3 linked regions of the Homo sapiens genome follow. The protein of the gene in region 1 purifies or fractionates together with the protein of each later gene. This does not show direct contact. Each region holds a gene or a part of one and is shown in the gene's direction. Other genes may lie near its edges.

Region 1 (7,417 bases):
CTTCTACACCATCCTTTCTACACCAGCACCTCCATCATGCTCTTTTTCTTGTAATACTTGAATCTTTTTCATAGCCCTTATCATTACTGACATTATATTACATATCCATTTGTTGCATTTTATTTGTGCATGAAAGTAGACTTTGTTCTTCTTGACTGTTGTATCCCCAGTGTCTAAGGCCTGGCACATTGGCAGGGGCTCAATAAATCTGTTGAATGACTAAAATGTAACAATGGTGTCCATTCTTCTCTCCCTAGCTCAGAGTGCCTGAAGTTCAAGTACAGCCCTGCCTATGCCCATGAAGCCTCCAGAGGTCCCCTAAGAGCTCTAAGCAGCTTTCAAATTTTTTTGACCTCATAAAGAAGTACATTCATTCTCCACGGTGCATATGTACGTATATATAGGCCAAAGACAAAATTACAACAAATGTAGTTGAGTGATCTTATTGGCTTTTATTAGCACTTCTAGAATCAGGCAACACCTAATTCTATAAAACAGAATGTTCCAATGAGCTGAACAGAGGACATGGGCTTTATAGGTAGAAAAGAGCTGGAAAAAAAAAGAGGATTACTCATTTCAAAGTTACTTTCCTTTTAGGGTTAAAACAGAGAGGACTTCCTTATCATGCCAGCTAATTCTGTACTGTTTGGGGATTTTAATATGCTCTCTCTTTCTCTTTTTCTCTCCCAATTTCTTGGAAGTTCAGATAAACTACTTAGTTTTGGTTTGGTGAAGTGGCAGTTTAGCATGAGTAACTCCATTTTGTTTTGGTTTGGTATGGTGGGGCCTAGTGTGGAAGCCCAGTCCAAAACAACGACCTTCCATCCATTTTGTTTACCTATATATATGTAATTGAAACAACAAAAACCTTACTAAGAGCATGTTTTCTGTTCTTTATTCTTTTCTTTTTTTCTCTTTTGGAGACAGAGCCTCACTCTGTCACCCACCACCCAGGCTGGAGTGCAGTGGTATAGTCTCTGCTCACTGCAACTTCTGCCTCCCGGGTTCAAGTGATTCTTCTGCCTCAGCCTCCCAAGTAGCTGGGACTACAGGCATGTGCCATCACGCCTGGTTAGTTTTTGTATCTTTAGTAGAGACGGAGTTTCACCATGTTGGCCAAGCTGGTCTCGAACTCCTGACCTCAGGTGATCCACCTTCCTCAGCCTCCCAAAATGCTGAGATTACAGGCGTGAGCCATTGTGCCCAGCCTTTTCTTTCTTTTTATAAAAGATGCTGATCTCCACCCCTTGAATTTCTTGATATGCCACCTAATAAAGGGTTGCCACTGCCTTAGGGCAGTGTTTCTAGAAACAGTCAAGGGGCTCCTTTGCATCCTAGTCAAGGAGTGACTGCCACAGATGCAGCTTCTTGGCTTCATCCCAGACTTAATGGATGAAAATCTTACCGGAAAGTCTGCGTGTTTTACAACTCCTCCTCTTTCCCCTCCTGACCATCCCCTGTCCTCCAACGATTCCGAAGCCTGATAAAGCTTAAGAGCTATAACCGGGGAGTTTATGAGTATCCCAGATGTGTCCTGCAGGGCTTGATGAACAGATAGGGAAAGGGCGATTCTCCAGTTCCAGTCCAACTTGGCTCATAAGTGGTGAAACAGAGGAACCCGACTTGATAAAAGTAAATCTACTCCTACCTTAGCCCTTTGCATTTGCTGATGCCACTACCTGAAAGTAATTCTGGTGATTTAGGGGCTGTTTTCCAGATCCTGGACCTGGTAGGGCCAATGACTGCTCTAGGGCCACACCCAGTGAAGGCCCCCCTCCCCCCCCCCCACCTTTCCCTAAGGATTTTAACCCTTGTTCCTCCCCCTGCCCTCCACAACCTCTTTTCTTTCTTTTCTTTTCTTTTCTTTCTTTCTTTCTTTTTTTTTTTTTTTGAAACAGAGTGTTGCTCTGTTGTCCAGGCTGGAGTGCAGTGGCGCGATCTCAGCTCACTGCAACCTCCACCTCCTGGGTTCAAGCGATTCTCATGCCTCAGCCTCCCCAGCAGCTAGGATTACAGGTGTGCACCACCATGCCCGGCTAATTTTTGTGCTTTTAGTAGAGACGGGGTTTCACCATGATGGCCAGACTGGTCTCGAACTCCTCAAGTGATCCGCCTGCCTCAGCCTTCCAAAGTGCTGGGATTACAGGCATGAGCCACTGCTCCTGGCCACACAACCTCTTTTCTTTTTAGCCTTCACACAAAAAGCACCTCCTATTTTCTTTGTTTTCACCATAGGGTTTAATAATTCCCCATCCCCAGTCCTTAGAAGGAAAAAATTCTAACCACAATCTCTAATTACCATGGCCTATTTCCCTCCCCACCCCCAGAGGAGTGTAGATGCTGTTATGAGGCCATCACCCTCCCACTGGGATGCACTGGAAACTTCTTTAGATGCCAGGAAAGCAGCACCCCTGTCGCCAAAGAACCTCACACAATTTACATTCTGAAACCTGCTACAACTGTATTTACAGATCCTCACACATATAATAAAACCTTTTATTATCCCCTACTGTATATCAGACACCCAAAGTAAATACTTTGTAGACAAGATCTCATTTCATTCTTGAAGTAGCCCTCTAAGGTAGATGATAGTATTATTATCACCTCTGTTGTAGAGATAAGAAAACAGACACAGAAGCTGTGAGTAACCTGACCAAGATCCCATAGCTGTAAGCTGCATAGCTGGGATGAAACCAATGACTATATTTCACTCAGTGTTCTCTCTAATCATATGGTGTAATATTGTCTATCTGGGGTGACAATGTGTCCCCATTGGATGATGACACCACTGTGTACCGCTCTGGGTAGCTCTGGGGCTGTTAGCTGCCCTTACCCCTCAGGTGCTAAAGCAGTAGTGGCTGAGAAGGAAAGGGTTCTATCTCCTTTGTGTGGCCATTGCTTAGAGAAGCTTCAGAGTAGAGGTGCTAGAGCCCCTGTGAGCTATGGGATGTAATGTTTCTCTTTCGGTTTAGCTCCCGCCTGTGTTCAGTTCTGATGCACTCAGAGTACTCTCTGACACCTGAAGGCCTGGGCCCTTCCCCTTTTGAGAGAGTGCCCAGCTTTCTGCCAAGACTCCTAAGAAAGAATTTGGGGTTGGTGGCCGGGCGCGGTGGCTCACACCTGTAATCCCAGCACTTTGGGAGGCTGAAGGGGGGAGATGGCTTGAGCCCAGGAGTTTGAGATCAGCCTGGGCAACATGGCAAAACCCTGTCTCTACGAAAAATACAAAACTTAGCTGGGCACGGTGGCATGTGCCTGTAGTCCCAGCTACTCAGGAGGCTGAGGTGGGAGGATCACTTGAGCTGGGGAGGTCGAGGCTGCAGTGAGCTATGATTACACCACTGCACTCCAGCCAGGGTGACACAGTGAGACCCTATCTCAAAAAAATAAAAAAAAATAAAAAAAAAAAAGAAGAAGAAGAATTTAGAGCTGGAGAGCAGCGTTCTCCTTGTATGCCCAGACAGACTAGACTGGATCCCCAGCAGAGGGCTCAATCTGGGCTCAGACTAATATATAAGATCCTGAGGGTGGGAAAAGCCCTAAACAGCTCAGGAACATGTTAGCAGTTTTTCTTTCTGGGGTGGGAGTGGGTGGATTTTTCTTCCACATGCTTATTTGCATATTTTGTTTTCTTCGAAATAAAAAGGCATTACTTTTTTTCAATGCTAGTTTAAAAAGAAAACTCAAATATTCAAATTCAAAAAGTTTGGATGTAAATACTTTGGGAAAATCAGCCTAATACAGATATTTCTCACTGGGCCTCAATGTTCAATTTAAAAAATTATTAATTATAGTAACCTTAAGTCACACTGCCTAGGTTCCAATCTCATAGCTACCAATTAGTAACTGTGACCCTTGGCAAGCCACTTAACTTCCATAAAAATGGGATCCTAATAGTACTTTCCTCGCACTGTTAGTAGACACTTAGCGATTGCAGCTGCTATGTTCCAGATATTGTTTTACGTATTTAGCGTATTTACTCCTCAGACGTCTGGGAGGCAGGTACTCTCACCCCATTTTACAGCTGGAGTTCCCACCCAGTGAGCAGCCAAACGGGATTTGAACCAGGCAGTTTCTCAGCAGAGCCTTGCTTGAAGCTAGGCATCTAAAGCTGCCTCTCAAAAAGGGCAGTGGTCGGGATTACATAACAGAACGCTTGCAAAGCTCTCAGCGAAAGCCTGGCACTTAATAAGTGCTCAATAAAGTTTCCTACGGTCACAGTAATATTTGGAGTTTTATGTTTGTTGTAGAACAAATACGCATACAATCGCGATTTCATTCAACAAGGAATTTAAAGAGACCTGCTGCCCCGGGCGGGATGGGAGCGCGGGTTGGGTGGGAGGAGGCGCAGCTGCGGGGCGCGCTGGCGCACCGGGAGGGCCGGGGGCGGGGTCAGCCAGGCCCCGCCCGCCGCCACCTGCGACAGGTGGAGCGCACGGGGCGGGCGCACGGCCATGTCCGCCGAGGGCGCGGAGCCGGGGCCGGGGTCCGGGTCCGGGCCCGGGCCGGGGCCACTCTGCCCCGAACACGGCCAGGCTCTGAGCTGGTTCTGCGGCTCCGAGCGACGGCCCGTGTGCGCCGCCTGCGCGGGGTTGGGCGGTCGCTGCCGGGGGCACCGCATCCGCCGGGCGGAGGAGCGCGCCGAGGAGCTGCGGGTGAGCGGGTGTGGGCGCCGGAAGGCGAGGGCTCCGGAGACCCCGGGCGCGCCTGGCGGGACCCGGCAGGGACTGGGGAGCCTGGGGCTGGGCGGACTCGACACCCGGCCCCGGAGCCTAGGCTCCTCGGTGGCTTTGGCTGTAGGACTAGGCGGTTAAGGGTGTGGCCTCTGAAGTCAGGCTGGCCTGAGTTCGAATCTACTCCCTGTGAGTCACGTAACTCTGAGCCTCAGTGTCTTCATCTGTAGTTTGGGGACAACAACAATAATAATAGCGCGTATTTATTAGAGTTGTGAGAAATAAATAAGATAGTGGGTAAAATGCTTAGCGATAAGGGGATCCAGGCTCCCCAGGCCCCTTCCATTGCTCTGTTGAGGAAGCTGGGGCTGGCATGAAAGGCTCAGCTGCTCCAGTTCTCAGCGCAGGGTGTGCCCCAGCTCCCGCCCCTGTGGAAACTGACACTGATAAAATCCAGCGCGACCGTATCCCTTAACCCCTGGACTCAAAGCCCCCCTCCTCCTTTCGCCTCTTCCCCCTGCTCCTAACCCCTTCTGGCTTCTGGTGCGGTGATCTCTTTTTCGCTTTCAGGATTGGCCTTGACTGTACTTCAGGCTGGTTTAAGGGCTTCAGCTGGATAAACGGTGGGGGTAGGGAGAATATCAGGGGATTCCCCTTCACCCAGGCTTTCTCGCCACCTCCACTTCCAGCTCGGCTCCAGGGTGGCCACCTCCTTGTCATCACCATTCTCCTGAGCTGCTGAGATTGGGAGAGTCGAAGTCACCTTGGGCTTCTCTGTGGCCCCTGGGGATTTCCTTGCAATTTGATTAAACAGCTTGTTTCTCCCAACCCGACTCTGCAGTTCACCCCTGCTGTGAAGCCTGAGGGCTCTGGCTGGGGACTTCGCCTACCCAGAGTGACCTGTAATAAACACATCTTATATAGGGTGCTGGGCTCGGGAGGGGTTCAGTTTTTCAGCAACACCCAAAAGCTCCTGGTTCGTCCTACCTGTTACCTCTATCAACAATAATGATGACAAAAATAAACCTGGATAACGCGGTGTAATCAACTTGCATAATGGACAAAAAAATTTGCAAACTCCAAAGTACTTAAATGTCTGTCATCTCATTCTGTCTTGACCACGCCTTTGAAGGGGTCCTACCTACATTTTACAGATGAGGCACTGGAGGCTCGGAACAAGGCAGTAACTCCTCCAAGCTTCCTAATGTTCAGGGGTGGGACCCAGGGAGTCATTGACTAGGCAAGAGGAAACTGCTGCTTTGCTTCGGCGGTTGGAGGGAGGAAGTGATGCTAATGGGGGTGAGAATGTCATGGAAACCTTAAAAGTAGCTATCAGGACTGGATTTGAGTGGTGGAAAGAGTGAAGCCTCGGGCAGGTGGCAGGCCTGGTGCTAGTTTCGGTACTACCCTAGGGAACCTTCTTTGAACCCCTCTGAGGCCGTATGCATATTTATCTCCTTTGCCTGAAGGGAGGTGGGTCTTACCCTCTCTTCCACCAAATTAGAGTAGATTTCTGTCTTTTGCACATTCCTTCCTCTATCCATCCAGTCAGCAAATAAATCTCACCCTAGGGCAAGATTATTACCAAAACCAGCACCAGTTCTACTGCTCTCCTACCTCTGGATTCCTGCCCTGTGGTTTTTCAGAAGCCTTCTCAGTGCTCTTAGTCCATGGTGCATGGTGATCACAGCTTCCTCCTAGTCAACTCAATTCTGTAACTTTGTATTTGGACCTATGAAATGTAACTAATTTCTACTTCTGGGTGGAAAGATTTACAAGGGCTTCCTGGAAGAGGTAGCTAAGTTGCCTTTTGGCAGATGGAACTGAGGCAGAACTCTTAGGGGGAACAGTGGAGGGACTGCTGCTTGGATAGGCTCTAGGTATCACCTGGAGAAACGGAGAGCAAAAGCAGGGCCCTGGCCCATACCTTCTTGGGGAAGTCACTTCTCTTTGGGCCTCAGCTTTCCCGTTTCTTTCTCTTTCCTTTTTTTTTAAAATTTATTTACTTATATTTATTTATTTTTGAGACAGTCTCACTCTGTCACCCAGGCTGGAGTGTGGAGTGCAGTGGTGCTATTTCAGCTCACTGCAACCTCTGCTTCCTAGATTCAAGAGATTCTCCCACCTCAGCCTCCCGAGTAGCTGGGACTACAGGCGCATGCCACTACGCCTGGCTAATTTTTGTATTTTTTGGTAGAGATGGGGTTTCACCACGTTGGCCAGGCTGGTCTCGAACTCCTGATCTCAGGTGATCCGCCCACCTCAGCCTCCCAAAGTGTTGGGATTACAGGTGTGAGCCACCGTGCCCGGCCAGCTTTCCCATTTCTAAAACTCCCCTGAGCTCATGGATGATGCTCATAGCTTTGAGAGCCATGAACTGCTGAACCTCTTGTGGTCAAGGCAGTGGGTGTTCGTTCATTCAACAAATATTTATTCAGGGCCTTCTATGTTCAGAAACTCTCTTTGAGGTACTAGGACATAGAGAAGTCAGACTTATGGTGCTTCTGTTCCAGTGGTGGGGGAGACAGATACCCAAAAAGGTAAACAAACACATAATATATAGTCAGAGAGTTATAAGTGCAAGGGAGAAAAATAAAGCAAAGTAAGAGATTGGGTGAGGAGGGAGATGGTCAGGGAAGACCTCTCTGAAGAGATGACATCTGAATGCAGTTGGGGAGTGAGACACACACACACACACACACACAGACTGGTGGAAACGGAACTGCAGGTGCAAAGGCACTGAA
Region 2 (7,030 bases), on another chromosome or scaffold:
TGTTGATGATTTTTCCTTCTTCAACAGGTTGCTAATAATTTATACTGGAATCTGGCATTTTTCCAAGCCAAGAGAAGATCGAATGGCTTTTTGCAGCTAACTACTATGTGTAGACAGGTTTTATATTATAAAGTATGCATTCTTATCACCTAGTATATAGTTAGTTTGTAGAGTGATTTCCCCCCAGTTTCTTGAACATGGTATCTTCACATCTTGGACCTTGGTCAGTTGTGCTATTCATTATTAAACACTAAAACTTTGGCGGTTCTTGCATAACATTGTCAGATTTTTTAGTGTATTTCTGTGAAGTCATTTTTTTTCTTGTCATTCCTTTTGTAGTAGTTGCTGTTTGGATAAAAGTTGATGTGTGATTTTTTATTAAACAAATAGTAAACCCTTCAATTATAGTTAGTCTTGGTGAAGTAAGATGTTTGTAGACTTTAGAGTTCTTTAATTCTTGGCACAACGTGACTGTTGAGCTAACACCAAATAGTGTGTTGGCAATACTTTTCAAATGGCTGAAAACACCTAAAAATTGTTCATTCAGAAATATCTGTCACTGCTCTGTTGCCAAAACTCAGAATAGAACTTAGACGTATGTCTGAGTCCCTGAGATCACATGCTAAAGTCGATGAAAAGTAACCACTGCCACTGTCTTGTGTCAGAACTTTTACAGTACAGAAAATAACAGAATAGCCTTCTGTAATGAGGCGTTTGTTAGAGTTTTGCATGAGATTCTAATACTTCAGTAGGACCCTACCTACGTGGTTCATCTACAATGGTTACCATAAAAAATCTGGCAGGATTTTAAAACTCAATCAGTCTTTCCTTTGAGCTAGTGACTTGAAAAGAAAGAGAGAAGGAAAAGAGACCATATTAAGTCCATGCCAGTTGCTTGGCTAGAATATGATCAACGACTTGTAGTAGACTCAAGTTTTTAAAAAACACTATTTTACTTAAACTGTTTCTTATCTAAATTCTTGCAGAGTGTCAATGTTATCATTGATTATAGAAGACAGGGATAATACCTTTATCTCTGGCCACTCAAAAATGCAGTGCCAGGAGTGCTAAACCTAGAGGCCAATACTGATGACCTGGAAGGTGATCCATATGATTGTCACCACAAAGTGCTTTTACACAAAAACTTGAAAATTTGAAAAACATGATTTTTTTAAGTTTCTCATCTCACCAGTCTTGGTGTTTATATTGCAAATCTATCAAAGTAAGAAATAATTTGTGCTGTATACAAATTACATGGGGAACATAAAGGAGTGAGATCCTTCTGTGATAAAATGAATTCACCACTCTGGTTACCCAACTACAGAACCTCCTTTGATCAGGCCAGTAGGTTGTGATGCAGGCTGGAGCCCCCGAATGCCCCACACACACTGCAGCATTGACCAGACCATCCGAAACCTGCGTCCCTGGTGATGTTCTCAAGCCTCGGAAGTGGCAAATGGAAATGATATGGCCGGTTGCGGTTGTAGGAGAGTTGTGACTTAGGCAGGAGTCGACCTCCTCAAGTAATGGAACGATTTCAAAGGCAGGCTGCCCTGACCAAAAATATCTGCCATGAATAAAGGTGCCTGAAATCCTGCTATGAAGCTTCCTTTGTGTCAAAAATCTGTTTGGTTTTCAGATGGAAATGCAGAAATCACATTAGAGTATCAACTAAAACCTCTGGACGGATTAAGTACAAGTAGCCCAAGGCAAAGCAGGAGAGGGGGTGTTGGGGGAGGTTGCCTGCTGGAAGGGGAAGCTGAGGAGCGGGAGGAGGGCTTGCCAAGACTGGCATTGCAGGAGACTTGTCTCAGGTGTGTTCCCAGAACTCTTGCCCCTGGAGATGCTGCAGGAAGGAAGGGGTTATGGTCACTTGGGTTTAGACGACATTCTGTGAACCTCATGAAGAAATTAGCATATTAAAGACTCTGAAAGTAGAGCAGAGAACTCAGCTTTAACCTGCTCACCTGCTAGTTTTCGAGGTCTCGCTCTGTTGCCCAGGCTGGAGTGCAGTGGCACAGTCATAGCTCACTTGGAGCCTGAAGCTCCTGGGCTCAGGCAGTCCTCCTGCCTCAGCCTCCCAAGTAGCTAATATTACAGGTTCGTGCCACCGCACCTGGGTCTTGCTGTGTTGCCCAGGCTGGTCTAGAACTCCTAGGCTCAAGCAGTCCTGTCTCAGCCTCCCAAAGTGCTGGGATTACAGGCTGGAGCCACCATGCCTGTCCAAGGGTCTTTTTTATACTATATGAAGTATTCCTTCTCCAGCTATTCTTGTTCGTTTACCAGCCAGTGAAGATTCTCTTGAGGGCTGAACAATACAGATGAGTATGGGGGCCCTCGCACCAAGGAAAACAGCGTTACATTTAATTAAGTGCCCTGTCTCAAACCCCAAGGCCCCACAGCTTCTTCATTTGGCCCCTAGTTCATCCTGCTTTCCTTTGAGCCACAGGATTTTAAAATATTTCAATCTTATTTTCATATCAATTTTTTCTTTGTTTCACTACAAGTACAGTCATTGTTTAACCCTATCAGGACTAACACAATATTTCACGTAACTAAGAGTTAATTTGCCCTTGTGAGTCCTTGGAATTTAAGCCCCACACACACACACTTAGAGCACTGTTGCTATGGGAACATAGAGTCCTCCAAACAAAAGTGAACTTTTTCAACATGCTGTTTGTAAATGGAAGCCTTCCCAAGCAGACACTGTGTTCCTCTTTTATTTTGTATTTTGCACATTATATATTTTGATTAGATTAAAATGGAGGAATTTGCAGGATGTGTTGTCATATCTAGCCCTGAAAGTTAACTGGTTACAGTTACCAAATGTTCACAGCTAGCGCCATTGAAAGCATTGACTGTAAACCGCTGTACTGTGCTAAGCCTTTTGTTTGCACTGTTTGGCTTAATCCTCACAACAACACTGAGAGGTTTTCATTTGATGAGTCATATTTAAAGAAAAGGAACCCAAGACGGGGAGTCAGGGGCACAAGGTCACAGCTGGTAATGATGACCCTGGAATGTCCTCACAGCTGCACACCTGCACCGCTCACAAACACAGCTGACCGTCTCACAGCTGCACACCTGCACCGCTCACGAGCACAGCTGACCGTCTCACAGCTGCACACCTGCACTGCTCACGAACACAGCTGATCGTCTGCCTCTTCGTGTGAGCTGAGCTCCGAATCTCAGCTGTCCAGGCTGTCTGGAAATCATCAGCCCCACTGGCTGGATCTCAAAATTTACTTTCAAAAGGCTGATGGAGTGTTTTCAATTAAACATGACCTAAAATTAAGTAATAAACACACTGGATGTGAGTTTTTATTTGGAATTTAAACTATTCAGAGCTGGTAGAAAATGTGTGCTCCTGGATCAGTGCCTTTTTTCTCCTAAATCAGTTGAGAACAACAACAGAAACAAATGACATTCCTCAAACATTTGCCCAGAGCACAACCACGGGGAATATGAACCACAGGTTTTCACATTGGTTTTCCATGCCTATACCTGTCCTGTCTCCCACAAAAATTATTGCTTGAGGCCCAACCCGGGGGATAAAAAGACACCCCCCCGCCACTCCGTGACCTATTAGCTTACCATCCTATTGGATTTCACTGTTTTTTGTTTTGTGGTGTTTTTTTTTTATTGCAACGAAGACTTTTAAATGGACTCATGAAGAAGCCATCACCTGGAATCTTAATCTTGCATTAATTTTAAGTGTCTGATTTTAGCTGCAGCCACTTGAGAACTTTTCAATGAATGAAAATGAGGGAGGGGAGATGCAAGTCACTGCCCAAAAACAAAACCAGAGGAATTGTGATTGAACATTGCACTTATCAACCCTACAAATTAATATGGAAATAGGAAAAGGGTTTGTTTCAACAAGTCAGGATGACAGTATTTTAAAAAAGAAAAAAAGGCCAGCCTGGGCAATATACTGAGACTCCATCTCTACAAAAAAGTAGAAAAATTAGCCCAGAGTGTGGTGGCACACATCTGTGCTCCCAGCTACTCAGGAGGCTGAGGTGGGAGGATCATTTGAGCCCAGGAAGTCGAGGTTGCAGTGAGCTGTGATCGGACGACTCCACTCCAGCCGGGGTGACAGAGCAAGACCCTGTCTCAAAAAAAAAAAAAAAGGGCGGATCCTAACGCTTGGTCCTCACACCTGAGGCTCTCACTAAGAGGTGGCTGGAAGCTCCTCAGACCGCTGCCTAGGGTTCGAGTGATCCTGAAAGCTGTACAACATCAGCCTCTGTGGGATCCCTGAGAATGATGAAATGTAATATGTGGCTGTCTCATCAACAGAGCTTCATTTTACCAAAGCATATGTAGACACCACATACATGAACTACATACCTATCGTGTAGATGCTGCCCTGCCTCATAAGAACACTCTTGACTGTCCTGCTTCACAATAATAATCTTCGCAATAATGATCTAATAATGGTCAAATTCTGTGTCTCTACCGTAGAAAACAGAATTTGACCATTTAGTCACGTTGGTCTTGCAAAATGTCCACCTTCCAAAAGAGAACAGTATTGCTTCCCAATAATTAAGAATAGTCTGGATTCAGGATCCAGCAGCTTAGAAGCGTTTAGCTACCAATAGCAAAAATCAGCCCTTTTAACAATGGTGGGATGTATTATTTCACATGGCAAGAAGTCCCAAGGGAGGGCAGCTCTGGGGCGAGTAAATTCTGCACCTCAGTAAAACTAAGAGCAAGACCCGGCCGGGCGCAGTGGCTCATGCCTGTAATCCCAGCACTTTGGGAGGCCGAGGTGGGTGGATCACCTGAGGTCAGGAGTTCTAAACCAGCCTGGCCAACATGGCGAAACCCCCGTCTCTACTAAAAATACAAAAATTAGCCAGGCGTGGTGGTGGGCGCTTGTAATCCCAGTTGCTCGGGAGGCTGAGGGAGGAGGATCGCTTGAACTCAGGAGGTGGAAGTTGCAGTGAGCCGAGATCGTGCCACTGCACTCCAGCCTGGGTAACAGAGCGAGACTCCATCTCAAAAAATAAAAAACAAAAAAATAAATAAAAAATAAAAAGACCCAACCCCAGATTTGTTCCACCTGGGTGCATCCGGTCAGAGAATGCCTTTCTTCTTCCCTTTTGTCTCCTAAGAGTGAAGAAAATGTTTCTTTGAAGGTGTTTCCACCCCACTCCTGTGCCTAAAATGATCCTGGCAAACAGGACCCGCATGATAGGTTGAGCCATGTGGTTCTTGTTTTTTTGTTGTCACAACTCAGGTTGGGGGTGTTACTGGCATCAAGAGTGTAGAAACCAGGGATGCTGCGTCAACACCCTACCATGCACAGGACAACCCTCACCCCAAAGAGTGGCACAGCCCCAAGTGTCAACAGTGCTGAGGTTGAGGAATCCCAGCTTAACCCATTCATGAGACCACCTGAGCCTGGTGTAACGGTTCTGCTGATAGTTTCCGGACCCTCAGAGGTGGAGACATAAGAGAACAATACCAGGGTTCCATCAGAAAGGAAATCAGAATGGCTATCGGGTGGACAACCTACAGTGTTTGCTACAGACCTTCTAGATGTAACTTCTAGATTATAAACACTGGTAACACTGGAGATGGTTAAATCGGAATTAGCTGACTGTCAACCTTGGTGGCACATTAGAATCACCTGGGGAGCAGTTCAAAGGCCCAAAACTGGGCAGCACCACAGAACCCTCACATCAGAATCCCCATGGGTGGGCCCAGACAGCAGTGTTCATCTTAGACTCCAGTGTGCAGTCGAGGTCGAGAACTGCATTCAAGAAGGCCTGTCTACTGCGAACCGTCCGATGATGTAATTCACCAAGTTCCATGGGATTCCGCCACGCCCGTGTCAACCCAGCTGACACGTCCAACTTGGACAATCAGGGCTTTGACCCCCGTTACCTGGCATTCAATTCAATCCATGTGTCACGCATGCCCCAACAATTTGTGTCCCAACTGTTTGAATCAAAGGATTTCTGATTCCCTGATGGGTGATGACTCAGTAACCGGATTCAGCTTCAGATCTGCCTGACATTTTTCCTGCCTGTCCTGGGCCAGGTATGGCGCTAGCTGCTTTCACCTGTATCATCTCATTCACTGCTCAGAGGCTCTCGAAAGCTGTTGACATTATCAAAAAGTTTTCCAGCTGGAATTCATCTCCCTCTAATCAGCCTTCAAAACCTCCATTTGTAAACCATTGCTGTAGTTTTATTACCTCTTACCTTGGTCTTTACAAGTTGCTGTCAAAACCCAGTAAGTGTTTACAGAAAGAAACTTTACATATTAAATATCTTAAAGGTCTTTTATGCAGAATATGCAGTTAATTTTGATGGGCTATGGATAATCATCAGAAGAGCCATTTCTGGAAATGTAAATAATATGGCTGTTTCTTTTAACAGTGCATTCTCCTGAAAACATAAGACCATTTGACTGATTCTGCTCCAGAATCTTATTGAGGCAAAGGACTGGACCGAATTATTCATGGAACAGAAGCCTAGGACTGGTAAGTCCAGGAAATGCTGCAAAACAATGCCCTCAAAAGAAATCAGCCTTTCCCTTTGATAGGTATCTCTCCTGCAAGCCAGGCTCAGGTGCGCCTCAATTAGAACCTGTGTTCGCTGGGGCCATAATTAAGAATCTTAAAGGGAAAGAATGTTTTGAAAGCCATCTGTCAAAAGTACGCAGTCTTGCTTGTAGAATTTTAGAGGTTCATGGTTACCGTGGGTCGGCACTGGGTCTGTGAGCCCTCATCCCCAGGGCTCGGTTTCCTATCAGAATCCTTGTCTGGAAGGTTGATTATATCAGATGCGCATTTTGCCAGCATCCTCAGAAGGAGATGCGAGGAAGATTCTTTTCCTGGGCCACTCTCATTTTCTCAAACTTGGACAAGTCTTAACAATAATCTGTGACCCAACTTTGTCTTCCCCATGATGAAAAACAGACCCCATAGAAACTCTCTGGCACAAAAACTCTGGAATCACTGACCCCAGACATTGTTCCCTGCCATCCACTCTGCCAGACATTTCTTGGATTTATT
Region 3 (5,403 bases), on another chromosome or scaffold:
TATGGCTCACTGTAACCTCAATCCTCCTGCTTCAGCCTCCCCAGTAGCCAGGACTATAGGCCCACACCACCATGCTCAGCTATTTAAAGAATTGTTTTGGCCGGGACAGTGGCTTACGCCTGTAATCATAGCACTTTGGGAGGCCGAGGCGGGTGGATCACTAGGTCAGGAGATCGAGATCATCCTGGCTAACACGGTGAAACCCCGTCTCTACTAAAAATACAAAAAAATTAGCTGGGTGTGGTGGTGGGCGCCTGTAGTCCCAGCTACTCAGGAGGCTGAGGCAGGAGAATGGCGTGAACCCGGGAGGTGGAGCTTGCAGTGAGCTGAGATTGCGCCATCGCACTCCAGCCTGGGCGACAGAGCGAGACTCAGTCTCAAAAAAAAAAAAAGAATTGTTTTGTAGAGACAGGGTCTCATTATGTTGCCCAGGCTGGTCTGGAACTCCTCCTGGCCTCAAGTGAGCCTGCTGCCTCAGCCTCCTAACTAGCTGGGACTATAAGCATGGGCCACCATGCCTGGTTTCATGTTGCAGAATTGAAACTCTATACCCATTAAGCAACAATTCCACATTCCTTCAACCCCCTCCTACCTGGCAACCACTATTCCACTTTCTGTTCTATGAATTTGACTATTCTAGATACCTCATGTGAGTGGAATCATACAGTATTAGTGTGTGAGAGGTTTATTTCACTTAGCATAATGTCCTCCAAGCTCACCTATGTTGTAGCATATATCAGAATTTGTTACTTTTTTTTTTTTTGAGACGGAGTCTTGCTCTGTCACCCAGGCTGGAGTGCAGTGGTGCGATCTTGGCTCACCGCAACCTCTGCCTCCCGGGTTCAAGCAATTCTCCCACCTCTGCCTCCCTAGTAGTAGCTGGGATTACAGGCATGTGCTACCACCCCTGACTAGTTTTGTGTGTGTGTGTGTGTGTGTGTATTTTTTAGTAGAGATGGGGTTTCGCCATGTTGGCCAGGCAGGTCTCGAACTCCTGACCTCAGGTGATCCGCCCGCCTCAGCCTCCCAAAGTATTGGGATTACAGGCGTGAGCCACCACGCCCAGGCAGAATTCATTACTTTTTTTTTTTTTTTTTTTTGAGATGGAGTCTCACTCTGTTTCCCAGGCTGGAGTCAGTGGTGCGATCTCGGCTGACTGCAAACTCCGCCTCCCAGGTTCAAGTGATTCTCCTGCCTCAGCTTCCCAAGTAGCTGGGATTACAGCCATGTGTCACCACACGCAGCTAATTTTTGTATTTTTAGTAGAGATGGGGTTTCACCATATTGGCCAGGCTGGTCTTGAACTCCTGACCTTGTGATCTGCCTGTCTTGGCCTCCCAAAGTGCTGGGATTACAGGTGTGAACCACTGCGCCCAGGCAGTATTCGTTACTTTTTAAGGCTAAATAATATTCCATTGTATGTATATATCACATTTCTTTATCCATTTTTCTGTCTCTGGACACAGGGATTGCTTCAGTTCCGAGTTGAATTTTGAGACTGGCCTCTTTACAGGCAGCTCTCTTGCTCTCATGACCTAAGTTACCACAGGCACACCCTAGACAAGGTCTTTCATCTCTTCTCAGGTGGAGTCTTAGATTCACTGCAGCTGCTGTCACTTCAAGATACAAGTAGGACAAGATTTTGCCTTCAAAGTCTGCACTCTAGGACTTCCCTTACTTATCATCTGCCTGACGTGGTCATTGCACTCTAGCACACATGACTGCTTTAAGTTAATAATTAAACTTTAGCACATCGAGAGGGAATTAGGAGGTGTCAGCAATGGTGATGAATCTCACCCCAACTCATGTTACCCAGTTTATGTAACAACAGTTTAAAACATTGACTTGGGGGTCCTGGATATTCTAGGTGTTAGGGTGCTGCAATCCCCTGGAACTGTATTAGTTGATTTTATTTCATGAGTGTGCATAAAACACCTTCTATCTATGGGACTGGCATGGGGCTTGGTGCTTAGAACATATAGATGAACAAGATCTTTGCTAGCAAGGAGCTGAGAGCTTAGTGAAGAAAGAGTGAAAAGTCCACAGTGAGAACATGGAGGTGCACATACCTGGGCTGCAGGCACACTGCCTCTGCCTGATCCAGTCCTGACACTGAAAAATGTGTAGATGATAAGAAGACAAGCCAGCCATGTGCCTTGACCATGATGTTTGGAGACCTTCAGTTTGCCTTTTTCTGATGGGACTTTCCTCTGTTAATTTTTTTGTTACTTAGGAGAACTCCTGGAAGCCCCGTCTTCCTCCTCATGCCCATTGCCTGACCAGAGCCACCCTGCACTCAGGAGAGCTTCTCGGTTTGCTCAGTGTAAGTATGTGGTCCACTTTAAACATGGGTTTGGCTTGCCGCAGAGCGGGCTTCGAGAATATCCTACATCCATCTCCCTACTGCTAGGGCCACTCCTTGGCTTACTGCACATGGATTTGTTCCAGGTCCCTCCACGGGGGGAGCTGATTGCAAAGGCAAAGCAGGTTGAGACTCTAGACCCAAGAGCACTCAGAGTCCCGCCAACCTTTGAGCATCTCTGCTGTGGCCACCAACTACAGCCAACTGCCTGTTCCCAAACCTGCTGAGGTATTTCTGCATCTGTGCTGTGGCCACCAACTATAGCCAACTGCCTCTTCCTAAACCTGCTGAGGTATTTCTGCCATCTCAGTCTGGGATAGTCCTTAAGAGCATGGATCCCAGAGCCAGACTGCTTGGGTTTGACTCCCAGCAGCTCCACTAACTAGCTGTGTGATCTTGGGCAAGTCACTTAAGCTTCCTAGAGCCTGGGTTTCCTCATCTGTAAAATGGAGATAATATAGTACTTCTCTTGCGGGATTGCCATGAGGGTTAAGTGAGTGAGTATGAGTAAAACACCTAGAGTAGTCATGCTGTATAAGTGTTAGCAATTTATTCACTCAATAGGAAACCAAATGAAATATACAAAGTGAGTAAGACATGGTCCTCAATCAGGAAGTTTCAGTTTAACTGGGAAGGTATAAACAGCTGTGGTCATAAATCACCATAAGACGGGCGTGAGCCACCGCACCTTGCCTACGCCCAGCTAATTTTGGTATGTTTAATAGAGACAGGAGTTGGCCATGATGGCCAGGCTGGTCTTGACCTCCTGGCCTCAAGTGTTCCACCTGCCTCAGCCTCCCAAAGTGCTGGGATTACAGGGGTAAGCCAGTGCACCTGGCTGAAGGAGCTGGCCTGATTTTTAAAATTGACATATAATAATTGTATAGTCTGGGTGCAGTGGCTCATGCCTGTAATTGCAGCACTTTGGGAGGCTGAGATGGCAGGATTGCTGGAGCTCAGGAGTTCGACACCAGCCTAGGAAGCATGGCAAAATCCTGCTTCTTTTCTAAATAAATTTTAAAAATAAATAAATATAATAAGTGTACATATTTATGGGATACATAGTGATGTTTCAATACATATGGTGCATAGTGATCCGATCAAGGTAGTTAGCATATCTATCATCTGAAACATTTATCATTTCTTCCTGTTGGGTGATGTAGCAATTTTAATGCTAGTGTGAGTGAAACATCACACCAAAAGATACAAAGTTGCTATTTGAAGACTTCTTAGCATGGACCATCAAAAGATGACCGGCCATGTTCTTATTGTTCTTTTTTTTTTTCCAAAGGGGCCATCCATCCAACCTTTAACTTGAAGAGCCTTTCCTGCAGCCTGGAGGTGTCCAAGGATTCCCGTACAGTGACTGTGTCTCACCGCCCACAACCCTATCGCTGGAGCTGTGAGAGGTTTTCTACCAGCCAGGTCTTATGTTCCCAGGCCCTGTCTTCTGGAAAGCATTACTGGGAAGTGGACACTAGGAATTGCAGCCACTGGGCAGTTGGGGTGGCTTCCTGGGAGATGAGCCGCGACCAGGTCCTGGGAAGGACTATGGACTCTTGTTGTGTGGAATGGAAGGGGACTAGCCAGCTCTCTGCATGGCACATGGTCAAGGAAACTGTCCTTGGCTCAGACAGACCTGGGGTGGTGGGCATCTGGCTGAACCTTGAGGAGGGAAAGCTTGCCTTCTATTCAGTGGACAATCAGGAGAAGCTTCTGTATGAGTGTACCATCTCTGCCTCCTCTCCTTTGTACCCTGCCTTCTGGCTGTATGGCTTACATCCTGGAAATTACCTGATAATAAAGCAAGTAAAGGTGTAAGGTTTCCTAAGGGATTACAACACAGTGGTTTCCTGGTCTCTCTCCCTGTCATCAATCAGGGTAGTAACTTGACTTAAGAATACCACTTTTTAGAAAAATTACGATAGAGATGGGATCTCACTAGGTTGCCCAGGCTGGTGTCGAATTCCTGGTCTCAAGCAGTCCTCCCACCTCAGCCTCCCAAGGTGCTGGGATTACAGGTGTGAGCCACCACACCTGGCCAAGAATACCACTTTTGAAGTTAATCCTTTTGTGTGATACAGGATGAACTTGGGATGTTTGAACCCTGGACATTCCAAATAAAGAATAGGCCCCTGCCTGGCTCCTGGGAGATAACCTCTAAGCCATTAGAATATCTTGCCTGATAAGAGTGTTTTTGTTTACCTGTGGGCCTTGGGCCATGCAGTATCAGCTTGACCTTGCAAGGTCAAGCTGAGGAGACTAAGTTAGCCATGTGGGCAGTGAAGCATGCCAATGTGATCAATCCCTAGTAAAAGCCCTGGACACCTAGGCATGGGTGAGCTACTCTGGTTGGTAATACTCTGTGCACACATCATTGTAGCCACACATCATTGCTGGGAGAATTAAGCATTATCCTGAAGACTCTGCCAGGAGAGGATAATTGGAAGTTCTCTTGGACCTTACCTTATGTGCCTTTCTTCATTGCTGATTTTAATCTGTATCCTTTCACTGTAATAAACTGTAACTATGAGTGCAACACTTTGCTGAGTTCTGTGAGTCCTTCTAGTGAATCACTGAACCTGAGGGCAGTCTCAGAGGATCTCTAAACATAATTTGCTACTTATCAGTTGCTATGTAAGAATATTGCCACAAATTTAATGGTTTAAAATAACACATAGATATTATTTCACAGTTTCTGTGAGTCAGGAGTCAGAGCATAGCTTAGCTGAGTCTCCTACATCAGAGTTTTACAAGCTGCAATCAACATGTCAGCTGGGGACACAGGGTCATCTGAGGCTCCAATGGGGAAGGATCTGCCTCCAAATTACATGGTCATTGGCAGCCTTCAGTTCTTGAGTTGCCGGACTGAGGGCCTCAGTTTCTTTCTGGTTGTTGGCTGGAGACCGCCCTCAGTTCCTTACCCCATAGGCCTTTGCAACACAGCTGCTTGTTTCCTCAAAGACAATAAGGGAGAGGGTCTCCTAGCCAGATGACGCAAAATCTTTTTTTTTTTTTTGAGACGGAGTCTCACTCTTGAT

The links.
Region 2: the proteins of BSPRY (region 1) and HSBP1 purify together in Homo sapiens (affinity purification with mass spectrometry; 2 studies listed by BioGRID and IntAct, with this or other methods). This does not show direct contact.
Region 3: the proteins of BSPRY (region 1) and RNF135 purify together in Homo sapiens (affinity purification with mass spectrometry; 2 studies listed by BioGRID and IntAct, with this or other methods). This does not show direct contact.

Annotation. Positions count from the first base shown.
Region 1 is NC_000009.12:113,345,126-113,352,542, forward strand, and holds the start of BSPRY (B box and SPRY domain-containing protein), read left to right. Parts: upstream 1-4,415; 5' UTR 4,416-4,454; coding exon 4,455-4,655; intron 4,656-7,417. UniProt on the Homo sapiens protein: May regulate epithelial calcium transport by inhibiting TRPV5 activity.
Region 2 is NC_000016.10:83,811,394-83,818,423, forward strand, and holds part of HSBP1 (heat shock factor-binding protein 1), read left to right. Parts: intron 1-27; 3' UTR 28-7,030. UniProt on the Homo sapiens protein: Negative regulator of the heat shock response. Negatively affects HSF1 DNA-binding activity. May have a role in the suppression of the activation of the stress response during the aging process.
Region 3 is NC_000017.11:30,995,009-31,000,411, forward strand, and holds the end of RNF135 (E3 ubiquitin-protein ligase RNF135), read left to right. Parts: intron 1-2,233; coding exon 2,234-2,323; intron 2,324-3,653; coding exon 3,654-4,183; 3' UTR 4,184-4,903; downstream 4,904-5,403.